Homo sapiens: one gene and its partners. The protein of the gene in region 1 interacts with the protein of each later gene in a pairwise test. Each region holds a gene or a part of one and is shown in the gene's direction. Other genes may lie near its edges. The genes, in order: PAX6, QRICH1, HMBOX1, SIGLEC6, AP1M1, KCTD7 and MISP.

Region 1 (4,403 bases):
GAGCGCTTTTGATACTTATGGCCCTTGTACCTCCCTGCTTTCCTCTGCCCAGACCCCGTGGGGTCCCACCCACCTTCCTGTTCGTGGTGGGTGCTGGTACGCGGCAGGGCTAGTCTAGAGCTCCGACCTGGGAGCCTGGAGGCCCAGCGAAACCAGGCCCGGTTTGAGGTTACGGTTGAGGCACACGGCGTCGGGGCTCAACTGAACTCAAAGTGTGGAAAGGCCCGGGTCTTCCAGCAGCCTGCCCTGGCCGAACCACACAGGCTTAAGGAGGGTCCCCAGCACCTTATCCATCTGTTTTGGAAACGCCGGTCGCCCCCTGGTGCTTCCGGGGCTGGTAAGCGCGTAGCTGAGGAAAGGGCACAAAGGTGGCGAGCTTTGCGGGAGTAGTTGTGCAGAACCTGCCGGACCCCAGGGCTTGGCCGGTAGGCTCGCCTTCGGCGGCTGGGCTCTCCCCTTGGAGCTCAGACTCCCCAGCCGCAGGCTGTCTCTCGGGCGGGCCCCAGCCAGGGCGCGCAGCCCTGAGCGTTTGTCGCTGCGGCCCGGCTGGCAGGCCCCGAGGGGCGCGGGGTCGCGGGCCGGCCGGCAGGGCTTTGTGCCGCTCGTTCCCGGGTGTGCGCGAGGCGCGGAGCATCCAAATTGACACCATATGTTTTCCTATTAGTTGCTTCGCGGTCGAGTTCTAGGCGCATAATCATCGCCAGTGGGCGAGAGCGCCAGCAGTCCCTAGGGAAGGGACACAATGATTGAGGCTTAACCTCTGAAGGGGAATTTGGAGCTGCGCTTTCTCTCTGCCATTTCGATGCTGGGAGTGGCGCTCTGGCCCTGGCGTCTCCTGGGCAAGCACCAGCCGGCGGTATCTGCGGAGGTGGCTGGCACGTTGTTATTTTTTGAAATGAGTGAGGAGGGAGGTCTAGATTTAGGCGGCCTTACGCGCCCGCCTTGGCATTAGCAGACTGGGAATTGCCGTGGCTATGCCCGAAGTTTGGAAAGTCTCTCTCGGTCTCTTTCTGGGACAGCCTTTCTTTTTCCGGGAAGCTTCCTGTGCCTAGAGGTGGGGCTCTGTAGCTGGAGGGGTAGATGGAACTTGCGAAGCAAAGGAAGGCAATAAAAGGAAGTTAGGAGAAACCGGAAACGTGGGCCAGGCCTTGCTCTGTTGGAGAAGCGGTGTCCCCGCAAAGTCCCTGCTTGCGCTGGTCCCGGCCGGAGCCCAGATCCCCCAAACGCCTGTCACTTCTCATCGAGTTGAGGCTCCGGCCCCCACCCGCGCCTTGGTGAGGGCCCCCCCTCAGCCCCAAGCCTTCGGCTACCCTGAAAACGCGGCTCCCCTCGAAGGGGAAACAAGTGCAGTTCAATCTCGTCTGAGTGATCTACAAATAAGGACGGAAAGGGTCGTTTTATCACGGTCCCGTTTGTCGTGACGATGCAATTTCCCGGAGCGGAGCACTGTCACAAAGTGACAAGGCTGCCACAAGCGCCCCGACTGATCTTTTCAATTAGCCTTCCATGCATGATCCGGAGCGACTTCCGCCTATTTCCAGAAATTAAGCTCAAACTTGACGTGCAGCTAGTTTTATTTTAAAGACAAATGTCAGAGAGGCTCATCATATTTTCCCCCCTCTTCTATATTTGGAGCTTATTTATTGCTAAGAAGCTCAGGCTCCTGGCGTCAATTTATCAGTAGGCTCCAAGGAGAAGAGAGGAGAGGAGAGGAGAGCTGAACAGGGAGCCACGTCTTTTCCTGGGAGGGCTGCTATCTAAGTCGGGGCTGCAGGTTGGAGATTTTTAAGGAAGTGGAAATTGGCAATTGGCTTTGTGTGTCTGTGGTTTTTGGGGAGGGGGACTACAAAGAGGGGCTAACTCCCTCTCCCTATTCTCTAAGGTTGGACCACAGGGATGAGGTTGTGAGATACAAAGATAAAGGAGGGATGGGGAACACTATGATGTGGTATTTTTCTTTTCTGTTTTTTCTTTTTGATAATATCTATCCTTGGCTAAGGGGAGGGCGGAGTTCAGCGGCGGAAATAAAGCGAGCAGTGGCTGGTGCGAACCGACTCCCGGCTCTAAGCCTTACTTGCGGTGGCCGGACTTGTCTGTGGCTGAAGCCGAGCCCGGGCTCTGACTCTCACGTCTGCACTGGAGGTGCGGAAACCTGGACTGGGGTTCACCAGCCACATACTGGCTGCTCTGGTTGTTCTCTCCTCTTCCTTCTTCTATTCTAACCAAACAAAACCCAACTCGATGCTTGTGCCAGGCCTTGGCCAGTTTGGACGGTGATGGAAACATTTCTGGATTTTAGCGTCTAAGGGAGCACTCAAGGGCTGTAAGGTTTGCTATCACTGTCCCAACACTGCAGAGACCTTGAAGGTTCAGTGTGGGATCTGTAGAACCCATGGTTTGCGGTGACACTCAGAGGGGATCTTTGGGAGATTTATAGAGCCGGTTCTTAGCGCTTTGTGGGTTCAGAGGCTGGCTGCAGTGTTTATGAAGAGGGGCAGTGGGCTGGGGACACTGCTGGGGTTATGGCTGTAGTGAGGTCCATGTGTACTTGTTCCTTGGCATGTGTCTGACTCTGTGTTGCTGCTGCAGTACAGTGGGCAGGGGCACGGTTGCTTGGACTGGGCTGCCCGATGTCTGGCATGGCTGGTGGTCCTGTTGTCCTTTATTTGATCGATAGCAGGGAACTGACCGCCGAGGTTGGCACAGGTTGGCAGGGGGATGAGGATGCATTGTGGTTGTCTCCTCCTCCTCTCCTTCTTCCTCTTCCCCTTCCTCCTCTCCTTTCTGTTCTTGTTCTCCCTCATCTTCCTCTTCCTTCTTCTCCCTCTTCTTCCTCTTCACTCTGCTCTCTTCTCTTCTTTTCCCCTTTCCTCTCCTCTCCCTTTCCTCAGGTCACAGCGGAGTGAATCAGCTCGGTGGTGTCTTTGTCAACGGGCGGCCACTGCCGGACTCCACCCGGCAGAAGATTGTAGAGCTAGCTCACAGCGGGGCCCGGCCGTGCGACATTTCCCGAATTCTGCAGGTGATCCTCCCGGCGCCGCCCCACTCGCCGCCCCCGCGGCCCTCCACTCTCAACGCCCTCTCTTCATTTCTTACTGTAAACGATGCTAATTATGGACCCCCCCACCCTCACCCACCCCAGTCCCCAGTCCCCCCACCCACTCCCCTGCCTTCCCACTTTCCCCTCTCCTTCCACCATCCTTCCCTATCTCTTTCAACCTGGGTCAGTTACATAAGATAACTCATCTGCTTCAGAAAAATATTGTGTGCGGATTTTTTTAAAAAAATCTTTCTCTTTTTATTTGGTAAAGACATTCATTGTGGGAACAGTTTATGAACCGTAATAAGCTGAGTTATATAAACCGGCATAATTTCATTCTGCTCTCCCCAGCCCATGCTTACCTCAGCTTTTGAGGTATTTGTTTATTCTTCATGTTTATGAATAATATATATTGATTTTAAAAGGCAAATGCTATTTACTCCTCCCTAACTCACATTTACTCAATTGAGTATTTTTTAAAGAAGAAGAAGTAAAAAAATCAGTTTATTTTTTACCTTTGTTCTTTAAAACATAACGCCACTTTAAGCAAGGTCAGCACAAAAATAAATTTATCTACTTCGTTTTGATGCATCTTCAGGCAGTGTTTAAGAAAAGTTTTTTTTTTAAAAAAAGCTTTTAAATTCGTTTTTTAGTTCAAATTGTTTGAAAGTATCATCATATTTGTAGTTTTTAGGGCTACAAATGTAATTTTAAGAAAAAAAGCTCTCTACAGTAAGTTCTCATACCATTGAAGGTATATTTTTGTGTTATAGACCCATGCAGATGCAAAAGTCCAAGTGCTGGACAATCAAAACGTAAGCTTGTCATTGTTTAATGCATACTTAAACAATTTTATTTTTGTCTTGAAATTATTAATAATGTGGTTTTCTGTCCACTTCCCCTATGCAGGTGTCCAACGGATGTGTGAGTAAAATTCTGGGCAGGTATTACGAGACTGGCTCCATCAGACCCAGGGCAATCGGTGGTAGTAAACCGAGAGTAGCGACTCCAGAAGTTGTAAGCAAAATAGCCCAGTATAAGCGGGAGTGCCCGTCCATCTTTGCTTGGGAAATCCGAGACAGATTACTGTCCGAGGGGGTCTGTACCAACGATAACATACCAAGCGTAAGTTCATTGAGAACATCTGCCCTCCCTGCCCTAAGCCCAATGCTCTCTCCTCTTTACCTCCTCCCACCCTCTCTCTCCACTGTCTCTTAGTCTGTGTCCTCTCCCTGCTCCACATTTGTCTCCTTTGTACCTGGGGGAACAGAGAGGAATGCCCTGACTTTTCTTTGACTGTCTGGAAAATGGGAGTCAAGTGTGGGGAGTCATTCACTTCATTTGCATGCTGCAAAACAGAGGG
Region 2 (4,403 bases), on another chromosome or scaffold:
CTCTACTAAAAATAAAAAAATCAGCCGGGCGTGGTGGCACGCACCTGTAGTCCCAGCTACTCGGGAGGCTGACACAGGAGAATCGCTTGAACCGGGGAAGTGGAGGTTGTAGTGAGCCGAGATCGCACCACTGCACTCTAGCCTGGGCGATAGAGCGAGACTCCGTCTCAAAAAAAAAAAAAAAAAGTTAGCTGGATGTGATGGCAGGCACATGTAATCCCAGCTACTTGGGAGGCTAAGGCAGGAGAATAGCTTGAATCCGGGATGCAGAGGTTACGGTGAGCCGTGACTACCATATCACTCCAGCCTGGGGAACGAGCGAAACTCCATCTCAGAAAATAAATAAATAAGGCTAGGCATGGTGGCTCAAGCCTGTAATCCCAGCACTTTGGGAGGCCAAGGTGAGCGGATCACAAGGTCAAGAGATCGAGACCATCCTGGCCAACCAACATGGTGAAACCTCGTCTCTACTAAAAATACAGAAATTAGCTGGGGGTGGTGGCATGCGTCTGTAGTCCCAGCTACTCAGGAGGCTGAGGCAGGAGAATAGCTTGAACCCAGGAGGCGGAGGTTGCAGTGAGCTGAGATCATACTACTGCACTCCAGCCTGGTAACAGCGAGACTCTGTCTAAAAAAAAAAAAAAAAAATTAGCTGGGTGTGGTGGTGGTGTTCCTGTAGTTCTAGCTATTTAGCAGGCTGAGGTGGGAGGATCACTTGAGGAGTTTGAAGTTTAAAGTGCCCTATCATCTTATCACGGTACTCTAACCTGGGCAACAGAGCAAGACCCTATCTTTAGAGAAAAAAACGGTCCCTTGTGATGGCTCACGCCTGTAATCCCAGCACTTTGGGAGGCCAAGGCGGGCGGATCACGAGGTCAGGAGATGGAGACCATCCTGGCTAACATGGTGAAATTCCATCTCTACTAAAAATACAAAAAAAAAATTAGCCGGGTGTGGTGGCAGGCACCTGTAGTCCCAGCTACCCGGGAGGCTGAGGCAGGAGAATGGCGTGAACCCGGGAGGCGGAGCTTGCAGTGAGCTGAGATGGCACCACTGCACTCCAGCCTGGGCGACAAAGCGAGACTCCGTCTCAAAAAAAAAAAAAAAAAAGAGTGAAACTCCATTTCAAAAACAATTTTTAAAATGCTGGCCGTGGTGGCTCACGCCTGTAATCTCAACAGTTTTGGAGGCCAAGGTGGGCGGATCACTTGAGGTCGGGAGTTCGAGACCAGCCTGACCAACATGGAGAAATCCTGTCTCTACTAAAAATGCAAAATCAGCTGGGCATGGTGATGCATTCCTGTAATCCTAGCTACTCAGGAGGCTGAGGCAAGAGAATTGCTTGAACCCAGGAGGTTGAGGTTGCAGTGAGCCAAGATCATGCCACTGCACTCCAGCCTGGGCAACAAGAGCAAAACTCCGCCTCAAAGAAAATGGAAATAAAAATGCCGGCCGTTTCGGCTCACACCTGTAATCCCAGCACTTTGGGAGGCCGAGGTGGGTGGACCAGTTGAGGTCAGGAGTTCAAGATTAGCTTGGCCAACATGGTGAAACCTCGTCTCTACTAAAAATACAAAAATTAGCTGGGTATGGTGGCACATGTCTATAATCCCAGATACTCGGGAGGCTGGCTTCAAGAATTGCTTGAGCCTGAGAGGTGGAGATTGCAGTGAGCTGAGATGGCACCACTGCATTCCAGCCTGGGCGACACAATGAGAATTTGGGGAAAAAAAAAAAGAACCAAAGTTTTGATATTTCCTTGTTAGACTCCAGCATGTCTGTAATCCCAGCTACTCTAGGAAGCTGAGGCAGGAGAATCGCTTGATCCCAGCAGGCGGAGGTTGCAGTGAGCTGAGATTGCGCCACTGCATTCCAGCCTGGGCGACAGAGCGAGTCCATCTTAAAAAAAAAAAATTTTTTTTTTTGGTATTTCCTTTTTAGGCCCCAGTTAATTGTCTTGCTTGCTCTCTGGGGTGGATATATGTCCCTGTTATTGTAATGTGCTGCTGGACAATCCTGGATCTAGTCTTACGTATTGTGTCCTTCTCAGAAGCCTTGAGTATGCCAGTGTTTTCTCACATTTTGCAGGTCCCCTGTCTGGGATCTCTTTTCTTTCTTTCCTTGGGTACTGGATTTTCAGTGCTGCCTGGTTCACTCACTGATGAATCTTGTTGCTTACAGGTCCAGGTGCAGGTACAGCAGTCTCCGCAACAGGTCTCGGCTCAGCTCTCCCCACAACTCACCGTTCACCAGCCTACTGAGCAACCCATCCAGGTCCAGGTGCAGATCCAAGGCCAGGCACCACAGTCAGCAGCCCCCTCCATTCAGACCCCGTCTCTGCAGAGTCCCAGTCCCTCGCAGCTGCAAGCAGCTCAGATCCAGGTGCAGCACGTGCAAGCAGCCCAGCAGATCCAGGCTGCAGAAATCCCGGAGGAGCACATCCCACATCAGCAAATCCAGGCTCAGCTGGTGGCTGGCCAGTCTCTTGCTGGTGGTCAGCAGATCCAAATCCAGACCGTGGGTGCCCTTTCCCCACCACCATCCCAGCAGGGCTCACCCCGGGAAGGGGAGCGGCGGGTTGGCACGGCCAGTGTCCTCCAACCAGTGAAGAAGCGCAAAGTGGACATGCCCATCACTGTGTCCTACGCCATCTCAGGGCAGCCGGTGGCCACCGTGCTGGCCATTCCACAGGGCCAGCAGCAGAGTTATGTGTCTTTGAGGCCAGACTTACTGACAGTAGACAGTGCCCACCTGTACAGTGCCACTGGGACCATTACTAGCCCTACAGGAGAAACCTGGACCATCCCTGTTTATTCTGCCCAGCCCCGGGGGGACCCTCAGCAGCAGAGCATTACCCACATTGCCATTCCCCAGGAAGCCTACAACGCAGTTCACGTCAGTGGCTCACCCACAGCCCTGGCAGCTGTTAAGCTGGAGGATGACAAGGAGAAGATGGTGGGCACCACATCTGTAGTGAAAAACTCCCATGAAGAGGTAGTGCAGACCCTTGCAAACTCTCTCTTTCCAGCACAGTTCATGAATGGCAACATCCACATTCCAGTGGCTGTGCAGGCTGTGGCAGGCACGTACCAGAATACGGCTCAAACTGTCCATATATGGGACCCCCAACAGCAGCCGCAGCAGCAAACTCCCCAGGAACAGACACCACCACCACAGCAGCAGCAGCAGCAACTCCAAGTTACTTGTTCAGTAAGTGAAGACTTATCAGTAGGGCAGGCAGCCTGGTCCCTCAGGGCCCAGTGCAGCACAGAGCTTGCCTCGCAACCTCTGGCTTATTTACTGCTGTTACTCTTACAGTGATGCAGTATTTAGTATTTGGGAGAAGAGGGGGAGAAACATCACGTGAGGCTATGCAACAGAAAAAAGAGTTTATCCTGGTACCTGGAGGTAAATGAGATGGCCAGGAATTGCTTTGGAGTTTTGGAGACATTTTGGGTTTAAGTACCATGGACACTTCTTTGTAATCTCTTCTCAGGAAGAGTAAAGTTACAGGTGTAGATGAATGGGACACCTCAAGTGTGTCCCAGTGCTGTTTCCTTGTATCATAAGTAAATGGTTTTAGCAAAACACTTGTAGTTTATCACATAGATTACAAACTCATCACTGGAGAGGCTGTGAGATTGTTCATTCTGTTTTTCATCTTTGGGCACACAGTGTGGGTGAATTAGAAAAGCTAAAATAACTCATAAGGAGCCTGTTAAAAGTGATCACCATTGGGAGGCTTGAATATGCCGTCTATGTGGTGGGACCTCCCAAGAGTTTTTGTGTTACGGGGGCGGCCGGGCGAGGTGGTGCACTTCTGTAATCCCAGCACTTTGGGAGGCCGAGGCAGGCGGATCACAAGGTCAGGAGTTTGAGACCAGCCTGGCCAATATGATGAAACCACGTCTCTACTAAAAATACAAAAATTAGCTGGGCATGGTGGCAGGTACCTGTAATCCCAGCTACTCGGGAGGCTGAGGCAGGAGAATCACTTGAACCCAGGAGGCAGAGGTTGCAGTGAGCTGAGATTGCGCCATTGCATTCCAGCCTGGACAACAGGAGCAAAACTCTGTCAAAAGAAAAAAGTAGGGGCCAGGCACGGTGGCTCATGCATGTTACCCCAGTACTTTGGGAGGCCAAGGCGGGTGAGTCACCAGAGGTCAGGAGTTTGAGATCAGCTTGGCCAACATGGTGAAACCCCGTCTCTACTAAAAATACAAAAATTAGCCGGGTGTGGTGGCACACACCTATAATCCCAGGTAATCCTACTCAGGAGGCTGAAGCAGGAGAATTGCTTGAACCTGGGAAGCAGAGGTTGCAGTGAGCTGAGATCGTGCCACTGCACTCCAACCTGGGGCAACATAGCAAGACTTTGTCTCAAAACAAACAAACAAAAAAAC
Region 3 (4,403 bases), on another chromosome or scaffold:
ATTAAAACCAGGAAATTGACATCAGTACAATGTGTGTGTATAGTTCTATGCCATTTTATCACAGGTGTGTAGATTGCATAATCACCACCAAAATCAAGGTACAGAACTCTTACTGCAAAGATTGAATGATTCTCCTCCTCTTCATAAGTTCTGTTGTTTTGTCAATATAGCTAAGGAGAAAGATAACCAATTATTGGATCAGTAATTTCACTCTTTGCCTTATGTAATACAGTCATGTAGTACATAATGATGTTTCAGTCAAAAACGGACTGAATATATGACAGTGGTCCCATAAGATTATATCATATTTTAACTGTACTTTTTCCAAGGTTTAGAAACACAGATACTTTCCAGTGCGTTACAGTTGCCTACAATGTTTAATACAGTAACATGCTGTACAGGTTTGTAGCCTAGGAGCAATAGGCTATACCACCTAGGCTTGTGTAAGTACACTCTATGGTGTTCGCTCAACAATGAAATTGCCTAATGGTGCGTTTCTCAGAGTGTATCTCTGTCATTAAGTGTTGCATTGGCACATCCTGAAAGTTTTTATGAAAAATTCCACTTAAACTTTCTTTTAAAAGTTTATTTTTTAGATGAACCTGACATTGCAAACATACCAATTTTTTTTTTTGTTATGAGAATCTGAATATTGGCTAGGTTTTTTTTTTTTTTCTTTTTTTTGAGATGGAGTTTCGCTCTTGTTACCCAGGCTGGAGTACAATGGCGCGATGTCATCTCACCGCAACTTCTGCCACCCAGGTTCAAGTGATTCTCCTGCCTCAGCCTTCCTGAGTAGCTGGGATTATGGGCATGCGCCACCATGCCCGGCTAATTTTGTAGTTTTAATAGAGACGGGGTTTCTCCATGTTGGTCATGCTGGTCTCGAATCCCCCCTCAGGTGATCCACCCGCCTTGGCCTCCCAAAGTGCTGGGATTACAGGCGTAAGCCACTGGTCGGCTAGTTTTTTTTTTTTAAATGAGGAATTATAATATTAGGACCCATTAAAATTTTCTGGTAAAAGTTAACGATAACATTGAAATTGTCCACAAATAAAATGTGTAAGATTTAAATGAGGCTGGGCGTGGTGGCTCATGCCGGTAATCCCGGCACTTTGGGAGGCCAAGGCAGATGGATCATGAGGTCAGGAGTTCAAGACCAGCCTGACCAACATGGTGAAACTTTGCCTCTACTAAAAATACAAAAATATAGCCGGGCGTGGTGGCACACACCTGTACTCCCAGCTACTCAGGAGGCTGAGGCAGGAGAATCACTTGAACCTGGGAGGCGGAGGTTGCAGTGAGCCAAGGTGGCGCCACTGCACACCAGATTGGGCAACAGAGCGAGACTCTATCTCAAACAAACAAACAAAAAAAGATTTAAATTTTAAATAAATTCAAGGCTTACATGGTATGTTTGTTGCTAGAGAGGATATGTTAGAATCTGTGTTAGATAACCAAAATTACAGCTATTTTGACATTAGTTTGGTTTTGACAGTGTTAATGCAAACTTGTCAGATTAATTGATTGTCAGCATATGTCATAGTTTTATTTTGTACTTGTTGCAAGGGAACTAGCTTTAAAGGAAGTTAGTTCAAAGATATTTTCAGAAAAAGGATCTTTACAGAATAAAAGGGGAGGTTATGGTTACTATTTTTGTTAGGTACAAGTTAAAGGATAGTTACAGGGTTGGTTATACTTTGCTGCCCCTTAATCAGCCATATGATTATAAAGCCTGTCTTAAAAGATGAGGCTGTTAATCCAATATACTATCGATTATTACAGACAACAACGGAAGTCTGCTTTAAACAGGCTAACAAAATATTTTCAAATGTATTAACAAATAAAGGTAGATCACCTGATTTTTGTCTTCTCTGGGTTTGAGACAATTTTTCATTTGTCAATACTGTGATAATTTCTATTAAAAAAAGACAAAGTTTAATTTGTTTCATTAGCAGGAATATGACAAATATTGATGGTACTTCCTGATAAATAAGATTCATATTTACAAAGCTTTTTGGCTACCTGTGATTTCAGTTTTTTCCTGGTAGAATTATTTTTTCCTCCTTGGATTTATGTTTCTAGCTTTCTATTTGTCTTGGTGTACGTACTAAAAAATAATGCTTGAATTAGGGATCATTTGGCTTCAAGGACAGGCGTTGTAGGGATTCAGCTGTTTTGGGTTGAAGAAGAGTGACTAGACCTTGTGTGAATGGGAGAAACGTTAGGAATCTGAGAAGCTAGTCTCTCAAGCTCTCGTTCTGGTGATAAATGGTTTCTTGTCTCAGCATCTCCTTCCATGTCTGCTTCATCTCCCTTTCTCACTTCTCCCTTCCAGTTCTGTTTGTATTGCCCTGGTTTTTCATAGTCTCTGCTTCTCTGACTGGTAAGTGGATTTGATTTGCCATGGTGTTGACTTGAACTGTTCTTTCAACTAGAGTTTACCTGTTGATGGTGACAGTGTGTTTCTTTTAGTTCAGTTGGCAAGAGAGAAATCTGAATGCATTGCATGACCACCATGACTTAAATGTCTATCCTTATCCCGTGACCTTGGTGGGAGGTAGCGTGGAAAGCACCTTTTATATGAGGCTTAAGCTTTTAGATGCTTTTTATGAGGAGGGTTCTCTTGTTGGTGTTGAACAAGGCACTCAGTTAAACATGTCAAGTCTAGCAGTGCGTGATGAGGTACTTTGTGGGATACAAAGATAGGTTGGATTTAATCCTTTTCTGCAAGGATCAGTTTGCTGGAAATAGCAAAAGACTCCTATAATTTAAGATTTGCTTTTTATTCTAGTCACCTCAGGCAAACCAGAAAGATGACAAAGTAGGACTATAAGAACTAGCTAGGATTAAGGAAGGAGAATGAGAGGTAGCCCTGGATACATGAACGTACTATCTCTACAGTTTGGATCACTAACCTACTAAGCATGAAAGTATCTAGAAGCCATTGTATCAGGATCCTCATTGCTGCTATCAAAGACTATCCCTTATTGAATAAAGAAGCTCTTATTCATATCAAGTAGACATTCTTTTGTCCCATCATTAAGATCTAGAGACATCTTAGGAGAACTCATTTCATCACTACTCTAGGAACTGGAACATTCTCATAGGCACCCTCTATCTATATAGTGACAACTGTTCTCTTAGCAAATGTCATTCATCCCTGACAAGAAAATTTGTGCCTTCTTTCTTTAGAGACAATAAGCAGGAATTCAAATAGTTGAGTCTGTAGTAGTGAGCATCTTGTTCTCTGCAGATCTGGCAACAAAAGAATTGACATACTGGGTCAATCCAATGTCCAGTCAACACCATAGGTGATATTTAACAAAAGCTCCATGATTTCAGGGAAAGGAACTGGAGCTTTTTATTCCTATGTCAGTATTGGAGTTTATATGGACTTCAGAGCTAAAATTTCCATATCCAAGTCTTTATTATATTACCAAACCAGGGCCAAGATTTTTAGAAATAAGTACAAGTCAAGGATAGGCAACTAAGGAACCTAGAAGATTGGAGTCAGATTACAAAGCCACAGGAGATAAATAGTTGGGGAGTCACAGAGTTCTAAGCACTTAGGCTACAACAGAAGGAAACAGTGATCTCAACTTTTGTGTTGAAGAATTGCCTGGAAAAAGTATTAAAATTTTAGTTTCTGGCTGGGCGCAGTGGCTCACACCTGTAATCCCAGCACTTTGGGAGGCTGAGGTGGGCGGATCATGAGATCAGGAGTTCAAGACCAGCCTGGCCAACATGGTGAAACCCTGTTTCTATTAAAAATACTAAAACATTAGCTGGGCATCATGGCGCGCCTGTAATCCCAGCTACTCGGGAGGCTAAGGCAGGAGAATTGCTTGAACTGGGAACTGGGAGGCAGAGGTTGCAGTGAGCTGAGATTGCGCCACTGCACTCCAGCCTGGGCTACAGAGCAAGATTCCGTCTCAAAAAAAAAAAAAAAAAATATATATATATATATATATTTTGTTTCCTGAGTTCTACCCCCAGATTCCTAAAATCTGAGATGGGCCCAGGAATATATATCCTTCATAAGTATATCAGGTAATTCTAATTGGTATAGTCCTCAGAATGCTTGGAAAATGCATAGACAGCATAATGTCTACTTAGAACCTATTATATGCTTTGTTCTGTGGAAGTCTCAAATATCTGTTTATAATTGGGAGTGTTTCTTTCCTGATATTTGCCTGCCTCATATTAAACACTGTGTCCATCCTCTCTGATTGCTTATGTCAGTAGATCGTGACATGGGCTATATTTTGCGTAAATATGATTATTTTTCTAGATGTTGTACTTAACAGTATTATGCCCTAAACATCTAGTTTTTATGGTTATGGCATCAGCTCATTTTCTTAAACTCTGTATTTTTGTATATGAACTCTTAAGAAGACAGT
Region 4 (3,079 bases), on another chromosome or scaffold:
TAGCTGTTCCTTCTCCAGCAGCACGTACCCAGGCTTTCAGCCTTTCACTCTGTGCATACAGCTTAGTATTCAGCCAAAGATTCAAGGGGACCTCTATGCATATTTTTTGGAGTTCTTTCTCTGTGTAGTTTTTTCTCTCTGTACTCTGCTCTACAAATTCCACCCACATCATTCCCACTTGAACTGCAGTTGCTGCCTCCACAGTTTCATAAGACTCTTGTGTTCTGCTTGAATTTATCCTCCACGTACTGCAGTTTGGAAATTGTCATTTGATCATGAGACTCACCTCATTGGTTTCCTTTCTTTCAGATGTCACAGTCCTGTCTGCCTGTTTTCCTTGTGAAACACATATTTTACATACTATGTATAGTTTTCTAATTATGCTGGGAGGGTGCCAGTTACTCTACCATAGCCTGAGTGAGAACTGACCAAGAATAATTCAAGTCATGATTCCTGTTGTTCAGACCCTCAGGAAAAATTGGTGCTGGGGGAGGTAATACCTAGACTGTCTTCCAAAAGTCTGGGATGTGTGGATGGGGGAAGGTGGCCAGGGGAAGCCCAGGGAGAGGCAATTTCCACCTGTTATTTTCTTCATTCAGTAGGGCTTTTGTGCTGATCTGTCATTTCTCCTGCAGAAATTCACACCTTTAGTCTCGGACTTTGCCACTGATTTGTGTAGCAAGAATGCAGGCAGGAATATATTATCCCAATGATGGAGGAAAGACATGAGTGGAACATAAATCTCATTTCTGTAGCCATTCACGCACTGTCACCAATGCCTCCCTGAACACACACACACACATATACACACACACACACTCCAGTATAAAATATTTTGTTTCCCCAGAGATTTCCCACTTTTTCTTATTTGCTCATTCCATAATTTCTTGTATTGCCTCTTGGTTTATTTGGAGATATAACACACTTAGTGTGTGTTAAATCCCCACTTTGTTGGGAATCATTACATAATTTCTTTACCATGCTTTACTTTCAAGTTTTCAGGGGCATTAGAAAGAGAAGGTACAGGAGAGGGCGTCCGGTGGCCTGTACTGCAGGACCCGGTCTCTGTTCTGTCCTCCAGTACCTGTCTAGGAATCAGATATGCCACTCCTGCCCCTGCTTTATATTTCAAAATATCTGCTATCATGAATTAAAAAAGTGATTTTGTTTCCTGTTTTTAACTAACTGCATCTCATAGAAAACCACACTGCCTACTATCTGGGACTGTGTCTGCTTTCTTCATGGCTTAACATCTAGCACATGTCACATGACCTACACAACAATAAGCTGGTTCTGAGTCCTTCTCAGTGGTGCATTTATATAGATGTGTGTCTATAGGCAACATGTGGAGCCTCTCTTAGCCTTAGTGTTCCCGTTTGTAAGATGAATGTAATCATGGAATCCACTGCAAAGCATTTTTTGAGAATAGAATATGACTGATTAATGTAAACACTCACTAAGGGCTTGCCAATCTTAATTATTAAATATTTTAAAATAAATGAATGCGGTGGATGTGGTGGCTCATGCTTGTAATCCCAGCACTTTAGGAAGCCAAGGTGGGTGGATTCCTTGAGCCCAGGGTTCAAGACCAGCCTGGGCAACATAGTAGAACTCCATCTCTACAAAAATTAGCCAGGTGGGGTGCATGCCTGTAGTCCCAGCTACACAGGAGGCTGAAGCAGAAGGTTCATTCGAACCCAGGTGTTCAAGGCTGCCTGAGCCGTGATCATGCCGCTGCACTCCAGCCTGGACAACAGAGCGAGACCCCATCTCAAAAATAAAATAAAATAAAATGAAATAAAATAAAATAATAAATGAATGGATAAATAATAAAGTTCCATCAGTTCTACTCCCTTTCTGATCCTTGGCTGCTTTCTTTGAGAACCTATTGTCCAGCCCTGAATCTTTTCTTTTCTTCCATTAAGGGTCATCAGCACCAGTTCCAGACAGGCATAGTTTCAGACCACCCTGCTGAGGCTGGCCCCATCTCAGAAGATGAGCAGGAGCTCCACTACGCTGTCCTACACTTCCACAAGGTGCAACCTCAGGAACCAAAGGTCACCGACACTGAGTACTCAGAAATCAAGATACACAAGTGAGGAATTGTCCAAAGCCATAACCTTGATTGGAGAGAACATGGTACCTCTCAGTGTATTGGTTACTAGGGCTGCCACAGCAATGTACCACAAACCGAGTGACATAAACACAGAACTTTATTTTCGTATAGTTTCAGATGTTAGAGGTCTGAGAACAAGGTGTTATCAGGGTTGGTCCCTTCTAAGGCCTCTCTTGTTGGCTTGTAGATGGCTGTCTCCTCCTTGTGTCTTCACATGGTCTTTCCTCTGAGTGTGTTTGTGTCCTAATCTTCTCTTCTTATAAAGACACTAGTCATATTGGATTAGGGCCTCCCCATGACCTAATTTAAATAAATTAACTATTTAAAGACCCTCCAAATACAGTAACCTTCTGAGATATTGAGATTTAGGACTTCCAACATATGAATTTTAGAAGGGAACAATTTAGCCCATAACACTGTGTCCAATTCTTTTAAAATTAATGTTTTTGTTGTAAATGGACTATATAAATACCTTCGTATATATGGCAGACCACAGGACTTCTGTCCAAGAGAACTGAGTTCAACTCCATCTATGCCAGCTATTGAGCAAGTCGCTTTATGTCCCTGCTCTGTAAGGCAGGGAAATAATTTCCATCTAACCAGATTATTGTGAAAGGTCAAAGAAAGCATACAGCTAACATACAGCTTTGTTAGCTGTAAAACAGCTAACAAAGGCCCTGACACAAAGGTTTTCATAAAGTCTGTATATTTTTGTAAATGAATGCCTTGTATCTGGCTTTGGCTAGCTTTTTTTTTTTTTTTTTTTTTCTGAGATGGAGTCTTGCTGTATCTCCCAGGCTGGAGTGCAGTGGTGCGATCTTGGCTCAGTGCAAGCTTCGCCCCCTGGGTTCACACCATTCTCCTGCCTCAGCCTCCCAAGTAGCTGGGACTACAGGCACCCACCACCACACCCGGCTAATTTTTTGTATTTTTAGTAGAGACGGGGTTTCACCGTGTTAGCCA
Region 5 (4,403 bases), on another chromosome or scaffold:
TGCTTGTTCCTCGGTACCACAAGGAAAAATCAGCATTCAAACAAAAAGTTTTCTCAGCAAGGCAAATTTACTTTCTGCAGAAAGGGTGCTCCTCGCAGATGGAACAATGGCGAGAGCACACCCGAACAAAGGAGGAAAGCCGTTTTTATCCCTTATGCAGCTTGTCCCTGCTGCTGTGTCCTATCTCCATTGGCTGGAGCCAGACCTCACAATCTAAGCTAAACCTGACTGGCTAATAACTTAAAACTTTCCTAAATAGATAAAGGCAAGGGAGAACAAAGGAAAAAGAGGAAGTTGACTCATTCCCTTATATCTAACATCCCTTACATCTAAAAACAAATATCTTGGTTAAAGTACAAGGACACAGAATGTACTCATTCCCTTATATCTAACATCCTTTATGTCTAAAACAAATATTTCGGTTAAAGTACAAGGACATAGAATGTACATTATTTCTAACACTTATGATTTATTCTTTAGTGAGAAGGGAAACTTTGAAGAGGAACTTTTTTACTTTCTACAAAGCAATTCTCCTGTCTCAGCCTCCCGAGTAGCTGGGATTACAGGCATTCACCACCACACTTGGCTAATTTTGTATTTTTAGTAGAGACAGGGTTTCTCCATGTCGATCAGGCTGGTCTCAAGCTCCCAACCTCAGGTGATCCACCTGCCTCAGCCTCCCAAAGTGCTGGGATTACAGGCATGAGCCACCGCACCCAGCCCTCAGATATGTTTTTGTCATTTTACTCTTCCTTCAGGACTCCAGTGACATGAAAGACCTTTGGTTATTATATCATGTGTCCCTGAGGCTGCTTATTTTATTCTATCTTTTCTTCTCTCTGTTAGATTGGATAATTTACATTGAACTGCCTTTAAGTTCACAGGTCCTTTGGCCCTTTCCTGTTTATCTCCATTCTGTTATTATTATTATTACTATTATTATTATTATTTTTTTTTTTTTTGAGATAGGTTCCCACTCTGTCATCCAGGCTGGAGAGCCATGGAGCAAGCATGGCTCACTGTAGCCCCAACCTCCTGGGCTCAAGCGATCCTTCTGCTTCAGCCTCCTGAGTAGCTGGGACTACAGGTGTGCACCACCAAGCCTGGCTAATTTTTAAAAAAAAATTTTTGTAGAGATGAGGGTCTCTCTGTGTTGCCCTGGCTGATCTAGAACTCCTGGGGCAAGTGATCTTCCCACCTCAGCCTCCCAAAGTGCTGGGATTACAGGCATGAGCCACTGTACCTGGCCTCCATTCTGCTATTAAGTCCATTGAGCAAGTTGTTTATTTCAGTTACTATATTTTTAAAAATTTTCCATTTGATTCTTCTCTTTTTGTTTGTTTTTGTTTTTGTTTTTGTTTTGAGACAGGGTCTTACTCTGTTGCCCAGGCTGGAGTATAGTGGTGCAGTTATAGCTCACTGCAGCCTCAACCTCGTGTGTTCAAGTGATCTTCCCATCTGAGTGTGCTGAGTAGCTGAGACCACAGGCACGCACCACCATGCCTGGCTAATTTTTTTTTATTTTTTATTTTGTAGAGACCAGGACTTGCTGTGTTGCCCAGGCTAGTCTCGAACTCCTGGTTGATTCTTCTTTATCATCTGTTTCTTTGCTGAGACTTTCTATTTTAACATTTGTTGCAAGCATTTGCAATTTTAAAAATAGCTGTTTAAAGTCTTCATCAGATAATCCCAACATCTGTGAAGTGTTGACAGTGGTTGATTGGGTTTTCCAGGCAAGTTGACATTTTCGTGGTTGTTTGTATGCTGAGTAATTTTGGATTGCATCCTGGACTTTTTGAGCATTATGTGGTGATACTCTAGGTCTTATTTAAGCTATATGGGAAATATTGATATTTTTGTTTTAGCCAACAGCCAATCTTACTTTCAGGCCACAAGTTCCAATCCCCAACCTGTAGGCCATGAGCATCACGTCAGTTTTTAAAGCCCCCGTGCCATTTCCTGGTCAGATCTCCTGGGCGTGCACTGCCCAGTGGTCATTCTGGGACCCGAGTGGTTAGTTCAGTTCTCAAACTCTTTCGTAAGTCAAACTATGGTATATGCACAGGATTCACAGATGCTCGATTCTAGAGAGTTCTGGAGACATAAACCACTTCATGGGGTGACTTTCCTGAGCTTCTGGCTCTGTGCTGTCTACCTGGTACTTTTCTGATTCCTTGCGGTTTACTGTTGTACACGTCTGCCATTGGGCCCACTTCCCAGCCCACATGGAGAGAGGACAGAGAGAGAAAAGGACAACGGTTGCCCCACCCCCTCGGAACAGTAGCTGGCACCACAGGGCCTGGGGCATGAGGAACAGGGGAGATGGGGGGCTTCTGTGTTTTCCAGGAGAGTCAGGAGTTCCTCTTCTGGCCCCAGAGCCAGGCCTGGAGGCTCTGCTGAGCTCTCGTGTGCTCTGTGGTGCACACTTCTGCTTCCAGATTGCTGCTGCACTTTCTCGTGGGGGGCGGTGGGAACACTCTGCATTCGTGGCTCTTCCCTGGTCCACCTGCTGCTGTCTTCAGTCTTCCGGCAGCTGCCAAGCCTCCTGCCCAGGTTTCAGAGCTGTAGTCAGTGGCAGGGGAAGGGGCGCCAGCCGACCTGCCTCACCAGCCGCTTGCTTTCTTTTGTGTTCACGCTGGCCTCATCCCTGCGGTGTGGGTGGACTGTATGGGCTCAGCCAATCCAGTCATGCAGGTCACTCAGGTCCCGTTTCTGACGGCCACTGGCAGTGCAGCATTGAGCACGCTTGCTCAGCCCCAGACGTGTGCACTTGGGTGTCTCCGTGACCTGGGCCAGGATTTCTGGAGGACTGAGGCTGCAGACATGGAATTGCCAAGGAGAGTGCTGCCCAGAAAGACTGTCTCGCGCACTCCGTGCAGACCTCTTCGCTTTCTTACTTTCCGGGACGGGACAGTGGCCTCGCTAACCACATTCCCCTCTCCCCTGGGGACTCTTGTCTGATTGTTTATTGAGCCGAAAACAGGGTCCATCTGGGTGCTGTGGGGTGCAAAGGCAAGTCCCAGGGGGCAGCTTAGAGAGAGTCGAGCAGGAAAGCGCTAGGGCTGCGGGGGTCCCCGCCACAGTGCGCTGCTGCATGTGGCTCCGCCCGGAAGGATCCCACTCCTCCAAACAGGTCAGCACAAGGGCAGCTGTCAGGATGCCACCTTCCTAAGTGGCTTGCAGAGCTGGTGGCTGGGTCAACATTTGCCTCCAGATGCGATCATCTGAGTGCAGCCTGGTACTTACACAGCCGGGCCCTGAGCAAGCATCCCTTCAGCACCCGCCCTGGGAAGGGCACCGGCTCTGCGTGGCTGGTCACACCTCAGCTGAGAAGGTTCTGATTGCTGCCCGCAGGGCCGAGATCAGCCTCGTGGGCTGGGCAGCTTTTCAGCTCCACTCCCTGGGCCTGCTCTCGCGGCATTCACGACCTCATGTGTTCAGTTACAGCTGGCTGCCAGGGCCAGTCCCAACTCCCTGAGGGGGAGGCAGCACCCAAGGGGAATTAGGGGCCGTCACAGTGGAGTGGAGGGCCCTCCGAGAAAGAGGCAGGCAAAATCCCAATGCTCGGGCTCCTGGAGCCCCGGCCAGTGAGGGTCCCGAGCTCCTGAGCCTCCGCTTGCCCACTGAGCACCTCCTGCCACACACGCTGTTTCTGGTGCTGGACACGGCAGCGCGCAGCCCCACGTGGCTTCCCCCAGCAGGGAGAGAGAGAGAGAGACAAGCAGGCAGACGCAGGGAAGCTGTTGTGCACCATGGGATCAGGGAGCCGCTTGCGAGATGAGGACAGGACAGCACGAGGAGGTGAGGCTGGGGAAGGTGACAGAACCGGAGCCCTTGGGGCCATGTCCGGTTCCCTGCCCCTCCCAGGGCTGTCATTTGCTTGGCACCTCAGTTTTCCCAATTCCCTCAGAGGCGGCAAGCTGGTGAGGGGCTTTTGTTTGTCTACCCAGTGCTTTTTGGACATCATGCATAAGACTGCACAGACTCTCCTGCCACTCTGCAGACAGGAAATGCAGGCCCTGCACATGTTAGCCTGGCTGGAGCCAGCATCTGGGCCCAGGTATCCAAGTCGGTGGCCTTTGGCCCACTTGCTGGTGTGAGCATGGCCTCGTGCAGCATAGCAGTGTGCAGTGGTGGCCAGGGCTGCAGCCCCAGCGATTCTTCTGCCAGTCACTCTGTGCCCTCAGCACGGGGCCTCTGATCTGTGCCTGTTTCCTCACCTCTAAAATGGATGCAAGAAGAGATGCTCCAGCATCTTGGCTCACGCAGGACAGGCTAGGGGGTGCAGGACCGTCGCCCCGGTGTGGATTTTCAGTTGCACTTTCAGATGCATCTCGGCATGCGCAGTGGGTTACAGCCCCTCAGGTCATCTCCCCACAGTCCCTGCCCCAGAGGTTGTCGAG
Region 6 (3,236 bases), on another chromosome or scaffold:
CGCCCGGCTGCGTGCGGTCCAGCGGAAGGCCCGCTTTGCCAAGCTCAAGGTCTGTGTCTTCAAGGAGGAGATGCCCATCACCCCCTATGAGTGTCCGCTCCTCAACTCCCTGCGATTTGAGCGGAGTGAGAGTGACGGGCAGCTTTTTGAGCACCACTGTGAAGTGGATGTGTCTTTTGGGCCCTGGGAGGCTGTGGCTGATGTTTATGACCTGCTGCACTGCCTGGTCACGGACCTCTCGGCCCAGGGTCTCACCGTGGACCACCAGTGCATCGGGGTGTGTGACAAGCACCTCGTGAACCACTACTACTGCAAGCGCCCCATCTATGAGTTCAAGATCACATGGTGGTGAGTAGCCCCGGTAGGCGAGAGTCCCATCAGGGAGGATGTCCACCTTGCTTGGTGGCTCTGGGAGTAAGATCCCTGAAGGGGCTGCTGACTGCCCCAGAATCTGCCGAGGTGAGAACAGCATCCTGAGGCACAGCTCCCAGGGGACAGAGGTGTAGCTCCAATCTCCCTGACTGCACCTCAGGGTTGGGCTCAGGGCTTGCGGCCTGCAGGCACTCCAGCCAGCGCTCACCTGGCCTTTCCTCAAGGCATGGTAGTCTTTCCTTGAGGCTGATAGCTAGGGCTTGACCAGGAAGTCCCGAGAAGTTTTGTCACCTTCTTGACCTTGCAAGAGAGTTTCTGCCCATTTTAGAGCCACGTTACCAAATCGATGTAGGCCTAATCACTTCCTCAACCCTGTTCAAGCGTCCCTCCCTTGTGCTCAGTATATTGGTGTGAACACGGAACATGATGGGGGATTTACCTGACCAGCCACCCCATAGCCCCTGGCTGAAGAAGAAAGAGCATCTTCTCTCCCACTGCACCCCTTCTCCTCCAAGAATAGTTGCCCACATTCCCAAAATGTGGAAAGACTTTTCTTTTCCTTCCGGAACATGTTCTTCACCACCTTTTGGAGATTTAACCATAGCTGCCAAAGCTATGCACCCAGTTGGCCTTAGAAAACCACAATGTTTACAGCCCTGTCTTAGGGCCGCGGCTTCTCTTATCTTCCACCACCTTCCTTGCTTGCAGGGTTATCTTCTCACAGGGCTGGAATGCAAATTTCAGAGGCTTCTTTTGAAGATTCCCCAAGTCAAGCAGGCAAGATGCCTAGATCTTCTGTTATCTTTGACATGTAACATCCTTTTTAGAGGCTCAGAACACCTCCTTGGCTGCTATCTCATGTGTTAGAATCCAGTTTGTGGTGAACCTCTTTGGAAGGGGACCCCCTCTCTTTAAACCCTGTTCCTCTGTCCTGGTAACATTCTCCTTCTAGGAGAGCCTCTCTTCTGAGAAGGTAAAGGAAGGGCTGGGTGAGACACACAGCTATCCTAGGAGCCGTAGGAAGACAAAACTTCCCTTTTGTTTTACTCCTCACTCCTCTATTTTTGTTTTACTCACTTCTTTATATTTTGTTTTACTCCTCACTCCTGTATATTTTGGTTTACTTACTCCTCTATTTCAGAAATTGAAAAAGATCCCCAAGGATCTGTTACTACTGCATTTCCTTCTTGCTCTGTCTACAGCCTAGGCCAACTAGTCAGGGTCTGGACATGCATCTCCTAAAGGAAGAACTGTGTAGCACCATTGATCACAATGTAACATTTCCATGCTGCATTAAGGGTGTCTCTCTCTAATCATGATTGTACCTGTCTCTTCCTGGGTAAAGGGAGATTTTTTTTTTTAATGTGTAAAGAATTGATGCGAGCCAGGAACATGTCTGTAGTCCCAGCTACTTGGGCACACGCCTGTAGTCCAGGCCACTCGAGCACACACCTGTAGTACCAGCTACTCTGGAGGCTGAGGCAGGAGGATCACTTGAGCCCAGGAGATTAAGACTGTAGTATACTATGATCGTGCCTGTGGCTAGCCACTGTGCTCCAGCCTGGGCAACACCATCGTAAAAATAAATAAATAAATAAATAAATTGGGGAGGACAGCCTCACTGGTATCAGACTTACAGGACCAGATAGACAAGATGGGTATAAGGGGAGCTGAAGTCTGTGTTCATATGAGGAAGAGAAGACCAAGCCCTGGGACTTTGGCTGAATTCCTCCGTGGGGCTGGACGGCAGTGATCTCCTGTTCCCTATGTGTAAACAAAGATTCCAGGGCGTGGTTTTGCACTCCTGTTGTACTCTTTTAGAGGTGGAAAAGAGGTGGATACTGAGATCTAAGAGGAAAGGATAGTCATTCACGTTCTGAGATATGCGCTCTCTCTATTGTTCTCGTACACAAAGGGATAGTCTCTTTTCTGGAGCTGATGTCCCTGCTTGGAGGTTAGCCCCAAAACATGGCTCTTGTATTGTTCTAAGAGAAAAGGCTTTCATTTTGGTTCTTCTGATTGGTGTTACCTACTGCCTAATATGTGTTCATTTTTTGACAGAGAGGCAGACTATTGAAAAAGTCTGTGTGAACAGAGAGCAGTTCATTAAGCCCATTGCTTTCAGTAATGTGGCCTTGACCCCTTCTGCTTCCCCCTTCTCCCATGGAGCATGGCAGGGCTTGGTTATTTAGAGTCCATACATGCAAGCCATTGAGAGACTTGTTTGCTCAAATGCAAGTTTGCTCAAAAACAGGTCCTGAAGGCTTGCTTAGGATTACAGGGATGCTGGGTAAGAACACCGTTCCTCTCTCTCGCTGGAGAAATCCCTGTTTCTCTGACTCCCTTTGTGATCCTCACAGTAATGTATTCTGTGCCACTGTAGGACACAAGGCTCTGGGCCAGTAGAACAGGCAGAGAGGTGACACTGGGCAGCAAGCTGAGAGCTCTTTCTAAATGGAGTGAAGGAATTCAGTGGCCTAGTTTCGCCATTCTCTAATGAGAAACCAAGGCCAGGCTGAAAAGTGCAATTAGATGTGGTGGATTGTGGTAACGGCCTCCAGATAAAGGGGTTATCCCTGTGGAAGTGACTTTTCCCCATTTGATCCCTTTTCAACTCTAAATGGCCAGGCCCAGAACAGAAGAAGGGTTGGGTCTGGAAGGAAGGCTCCAAAGGATGAAAGCTTCTCCCTGATCATAAGGAAGTGCATCTTTATAGAATTGTTGTGCATAATGTCAGTAAATCCCTCTCACTTGACAAGGGACTGGATTCATCTTGCCTTGAGACGGGCCAGTAGTTATCAGTGAGTCAAAGCAAAGTGAAAGTTTCAGGAGATGGGACCAATGGTGCAATGCTCGCCATAACA
Region 7 (4,403 bases), on another chromosome or scaffold:
TGCCGCCTGGTTTTCAATGTTTCCCCTATTTTAGTTTCTGACATTTGATACGCGCGGAAGATTGCATGACACATTGCGTGTAGTTTCAACACGGCTCCCCACGGTCTCTCCACTTTATGCTGTTTGATGCCACTTTCCAGTTCAGAGAGGGGCTAAGTTTTTCTTTTTTTTTCTTTTTTTCTTTTTTTTTTTTTTTGAGGCGGAGTCTAGCTCTGTCACCAGGCTGGAGTGCAATGGTGCGATCTCAGCTCCCTGCAAGCTCCACCTCCCGGGTTCACAGCATTCTCCTGCCTCAGCCTCCTGAGTAGCTGGGACTACAGGCGCCCGCCAGCACACCCGGTTAATTTTTTTTGTATTTTTAGTAGAGATGGGGTTTCACCATTTTAGCCAGGATGGTCTCGATCTCCTGACCTCGTGATCCGCCAAAGTGCTGGGATTACAGGTGTGAGCCACTGTGCCTGGCCGACCCTGTCTGTTTAAAAACAAAAAAAAATGCTGCTGGTTGGTGTAAAGGCAGCAGATCTAAATAATAGCCTTGGTGGCCCGGGAGCGACAGTCCTGCTTTGTGGGGGTTTGTTTTTCTTTTGAGACAGGGTCTTTCTCTGTCACCCAGGCTGGAGTGCAATGGCACAATCTCAGCTCACCGCAACCTCCACCTCACAGGTTCAAGTGATTCTCCCACCTCAGCCTCCCAAGTAGCTGGGATTACAGGCCTGAGCCCCTGTGCCCAGCCGACAGTGCTTTTTTTAGGAGTCAGGAGCTCAAGCTTTTGAGATCCCTGTGTCTTCAGGTGAGGCTTCCTTTCCTCAACTATGAAAGATGATGTCTGCTGGACACGGTGGCTCACGCCTGTAATCCCTGCACTTTGGGAGGCCGAGGCAGGCGGATCACCTGAAGTCAGGAGTTCAAGACCAGCCTGGCCAACATGGTGAAACCCGTCTCTACTAACAATACAAAAATTAGCCGGGTGTCCTGGCTGGGCGCGGTGGCTCACGCCTGTAATCCCAACACTTTGGGAGGCCGAGGCGGGAGGATCACGAGGTCAGGAGATCAAGACCATCCTGGCTAATATGGTGAAACCCCGTCTCTACTAAAAATACAAAAAATTAGCCAGGCGTGGTGGCGGGCGCCCGTAGTCCCAGCTCTAGGGAGGCTGAGGCAGGAGAATGGCGTGAACCTGGGAGGCAGAGCTTGCAGGGAGCCGAGATCGCGCCACTGCACTCCAGCCTGGGCGACAGAGTGAGACTCCGCCTCAAAAAAAAGAAAAAATTAGCCGGGTGTGGGGGCGGGTGCCCGTAGTCCCAGCTACTCAGGAGGCTGAGGCAGGAGAATTGCTTGAACCCGGGAGGTGGAGATTGCAGTGAGCTGAGATCACGCTACCGCAGTCCAGCCTGTGCATCGCAGCGAGACTCTGTCTCAAAACAAAAGACAATACCTAAGACGGGTGCTGGGTACAAGGCCTGACATGAAGGAGGTGTTCAGATGATGGCTCTGGGGGAGGGGCAATCTGGGTTACTTCCTGGAGGAGGTGTCCATGGGCTTCAGCAGAGGAAGCCGTGGAGAAGCAGAAACAGGCAGCCTCGAGACAGAGAGAGCTGCAGGTAGAGGAGGAGGGCGAGGTTTGGGGTGGAGGAAGAGGGCCTGGTTTGGGGTGGAAGAGGAGGGTCTGGTTTGGGTTGGAGGAAGAGGGCCTGGTTTGGGTGGAAGAGGAGGGTCTGGTTTGGGTGGAAGAGGAGGGTCTGGTTTGGGGTGGAAGAGGAGGGCCTGGCTTGGGGTGGAGGAAGAGGGCCTGGTTTGGGGTGGAAGAGGAGGGCCTGGTTTGGGGTGGAAGAGGAGGGTCTGGTTTGGGGTAGAAGAGGAGGGCCTGGCTTGGGGTGGAGGTGCCCACAGAAATTGGGGTTTCGTGCTAAGGCCAGGAGCAGGGTGTGAGAACTGTGCCCTGCAGATGCCAGGAGCCACAGAAGCGATGCGAGCAGGTGTGTGACCTCCGGGAAGGCTCCTGGAACTGAGCCCAGCAGCAACCTGGACCCTTGGGAGAGGGCGAGAGCCGGAAGGCACTGGGTCAGGGTGTCACCCGCTCGCTCCACGGCCCCACCTGGGCCCAGCGGGACAAGGTCCACGGTGTTCCTTTGCCCATCCTGGCTTTATGGCGACAAGGCCCAGGCGGGGATGTTGTCTCAGATGGGACGAGGTGTCCAGCTGGGCAGGGCAGGGTGGAGAACCAGGATGTGGGAGCCGGGAAACTGGAGTTGCTGTCAGTCCTTCTCTCTGGGCCTCAGTTTCTCCATTTGACATCCCTTAGCAAGGGGCCATCTGTAATTGTCAGATGGAAAAATCCCACACCAGGAGTCTCAGAGTGAGCTCAGGGTGGAAAGGCTCAGTGCACAGGAGACACAGATAAATATGGTGCGGCCAAGGAAGGCTTCAGAGATCAAGGCTGAGGCCAGGCGCGGTGGCTCACGCCTGTAATTCCAGCACTTTGGGAGGCCGAGGCGGGCAGATCACCTGAGCTCAGGAGTTCGAGACCAACCTGGCCAACATGGTGAGACCTCGTCTCTACTAAAAATACAAAAAATTAGCCGGACTTGGGAGGTTAGCGCCTGTAATCCCAGCTACTCAGGAGGCTGAGGCACGAGAATTGCTTGAACCTGGAAGCAGAGGTTGCAGTGAGCTGACATTGTGCCACTGCACTCCAGGCTGGGCAACAGAGCGAGACTCCATCTCAAAAAAAAAAAAATCAAGGCTGAGCTGGACTCCACAGGGCAGGTGTGTGTGTCTGGGAGATAAGGTGGGCAGGGCACCCTGATTTTATTGGGCTGCAAATGTTAGAAACATATAATGCGAGTTGTTGGGGTAGTAACCGGGACATTCAGAGATTCAGGTATGGTTGGAATCAGGGAGCTTAAAAGTTTTCAGGATGCTTTGCTGGTGTTGGGGTTGCTGTCAAGCAAGCTGTACCCACTGGGGGCATTTACGTCCCCAGCAATTCACTATCTCATTCCATCAGCCTAACAAGACCAGCGGGAAGAGGGTCCCATCTTCTGCATTAATTGTAAAGTCCCAGGGTCTCATGTCATTGGCTAGACTGGGTCACATGCTCATCTCTGAACCAATTACAGAGGCCAGAGGGTGAAATGCTCTCACTGGCTGGACTAGGTCACTTACCCATCTTTGAACCAATCACAGAGGCCAGTGGGTGGGATGCTCTGATTGATCAGGATGAGTCACTTACCCATCCCTGAACCAATCACAGAGGCCAGAGAATGGGCTACTCTGACTGGCCAGGCTGGGCCATTTACTCATCCTTGAACCAATCACAGAGGCCAGAAGGTGGGATGCTCTGATTGGCCAGGCTGAGTTACTTACCTATCCCTTAGCCAATCACAGAGATTAGACAATGGGCTGCTCTGAGTGGCTGTACTGTGTCACGCACCCCTAAACCAATCACAGAGGTTAGAGAATGGGATGCACTGATTGGCTGGACTGTCACTTACGCACCCCTAAACCAATCACAGAGGTTAGAGAATGGGCTGCTCTGAGTGGCTGGACTGTGTCACTTACCCATCCCTAAACCAATCACAAAGGCCATTTGATGGACCCTTTGCCCTTTGGGGGACTGGAGGCTGTTCCTCTCCCTAGGTGCTCTGACTTGATGGCCCTCATTTCCTTCTCCTCCCTCAGTAAGCCCAGAGGTCTCCACCCCACGGGAGGAAGGCTGAGGCCAAGACCCCGGAAGAGATGGACCGCGTGACCAGATACCCCATCCTGGGCATCCCTCAGGCACACCGTGGCACCGGCCTGGTGCTGGATGGAGACACCAGCTACACATACCATCTGGTGTGCATGGGCCCCGAGGCCAGCGGCTGGGGCCAGGATGAGCCGCAGACATGGCCCACTGACCACAGGGCCCAGCAGGGCGTGCAGAGGCAGGGGGTGTCCTACAGCGTGCATGCCTACACTGGCCAGCCGTCCCCACGGGGGCTCCACTCGGAGAACAGGGAGGATGAGGGTTGGCAGGTTTACCGCCTGGGCGCCAGGGATGCCCACCAGGGACGTCCAACATGGGCACTCCGCCCAGAGGACGGGGAGGACAAGGAGATGAAGACCTACCGCCTGGATGCTGGGGACGCTGACCCCAGGAGGCTGTGTGACCTGGAGCGGGAGCGCTGGGCCGTCATCCAGGGCCAGGCAGTCAGGAAGAGCAGCACCGTGGCCACGCTCCAGGGCACTCCTGACCACGGAGACCCCAGGACCCCCGGCCCACCTCGGTCCACGCCCCTGGAGGAGAACGTGGTTGACAGGGAGCAGATTGACTTCCTGGCAGCGAGACAGCAGTTCCTGAGTCTGGAGCAGGCGAACAAGGGGGCCCCTCATAGCTCCCCGGCCAGGGGGACCCCTGCAGG

What was found.
Region 2: the proteins of PAX6 (region 1) and QRICH1 interact in binary tests that used the Homo sapiens proteins (3 or more experiments, as listed by UniProt).
Region 3: the proteins of PAX6 (region 1) and HMBOX1 interact in binary tests that used the Homo sapiens proteins (3 or more experiments, as listed by UniProt).
Region 4: the proteins of PAX6 (region 1) and SIGLEC6 interact in binary tests that used the Homo sapiens proteins (3 or more experiments, as listed by UniProt).
Region 5: the proteins of PAX6 (region 1) and AP1M1 interact in binary tests that used the Homo sapiens proteins (3 or more experiments, as listed by UniProt).
Region 6: the proteins of PAX6 (region 1) and KCTD7 interact in binary tests that used the Homo sapiens proteins (3 or more experiments, as listed by UniProt).
Region 7: the proteins of PAX6 (region 1) and MISP interact in binary tests that used the Homo sapiens proteins (3 or more experiments, as listed by UniProt).

Annotation. Positions count from the first base shown.
Region 1 is NC_000011.10:31,801,323-31,805,725, reverse strand, and holds part of PAX6 (paired box protein Pax-6), read left to right. Parts: exon of another isoform or gene 1-337; intron 338-684; exon of another isoform or gene 685-868; intron 869-1,666; exon of another isoform or gene 1,667-1,999; coding exon of another isoform or gene 2,000-2,142; exon of another isoform or gene 2,143-2,891; coding exon 2,892-3,022; coding exon of another isoform or gene 3,023-3,097; intron 3,098-3,813; coding exon 3,814-3,855; intron 3,856-3,949; coding exon 3,950-4,165; exon of another isoform or gene 4,166-4,403. UniProt on the Homo sapiens protein: Transcription factor with important functions in the development of the eye, nose, central nervous system and pancreas. Required for the differentiation of pancreatic islet alpha cells.
Region 2 is NC_000003.12:49,055,669-49,060,071, reverse strand, and holds part of QRICH1 (transcriptional regulator QRICH1), read left to right. Parts: intron 1-2,181; coding exon 2,182-3,210; intron 3,211-4,403. UniProt on the Homo sapiens protein: Transcriptional regulator that acts as a mediator of the integrated stress response (ISR) through transcriptional control of protein homeostasis under conditions of ER stress.
Region 3 is NC_000008.11:28,896,318-28,900,720, forward strand, and holds part of HMBOX1 (homeobox-containing protein 1), read left to right. Parts: intron 1-4,403. UniProt on the Homo sapiens protein: Binds directly to 5'-TTAGGG-3' repeats in telomeric DNA. Associates with the telomerase complex at sites of active telomere processing and positively regulates telomere elongation.
Region 4 is NC_000019.10:51,519,102-51,522,180, reverse strand, and holds part of SIGLEC6 (sialic acid-binding Ig-like lectin 6 isoform 1 precursor), read left to right. Parts: intron 1-1,925; coding exon 1,926-2,099; 3' UTR 2,100-3,079. UniProt on the Homo sapiens protein: Putative adhesion molecule that mediates sialic-acid dependent binding to cells. Binds to alpha-2,6-linked sialic acid. The sialic acid recognition site may be masked by cis interactions with sialic acids on the same cell surface.
Region 5 is NC_000019.10:16,221,264-16,225,666, forward strand, and holds part of AP1M1 (AP-1 complex subunit mu-1), read left to right. Parts: intron 1-4,403. UniProt on the Homo sapiens protein: Subunit of clathrin-associated adaptor protein complex 1 that plays a role in protein sorting in the trans-Golgi network (TGN) and endosomes.
Region 6 is NC_000007.14:66,638,881-66,642,116, forward strand, and holds part of KCTD7 (BTB/POZ domain-containing protein KCTD7), read left to right. Parts: coding exon 1-352; 3' UTR 353-1,513; coding exon of another isoform or gene 1,514-1,514; 3' UTR 1,515-3,236. UniProt on the Homo sapiens protein: May be involved in the control of excitability of cortical neurons.
Region 7 is NC_000019.10:753,209-757,611, forward strand, and holds part of MISP (mitotic interactor and substrate of PLK1), read left to right. Parts: intron 1-1,238; exon of another isoform or gene 1,239-1,601; intron 1,602-3,681; 5' UTR 3,682-3,738; coding exon 3,739-4,403. UniProt on the Homo sapiens protein: Plays a role in mitotic spindle orientation and mitotic progression.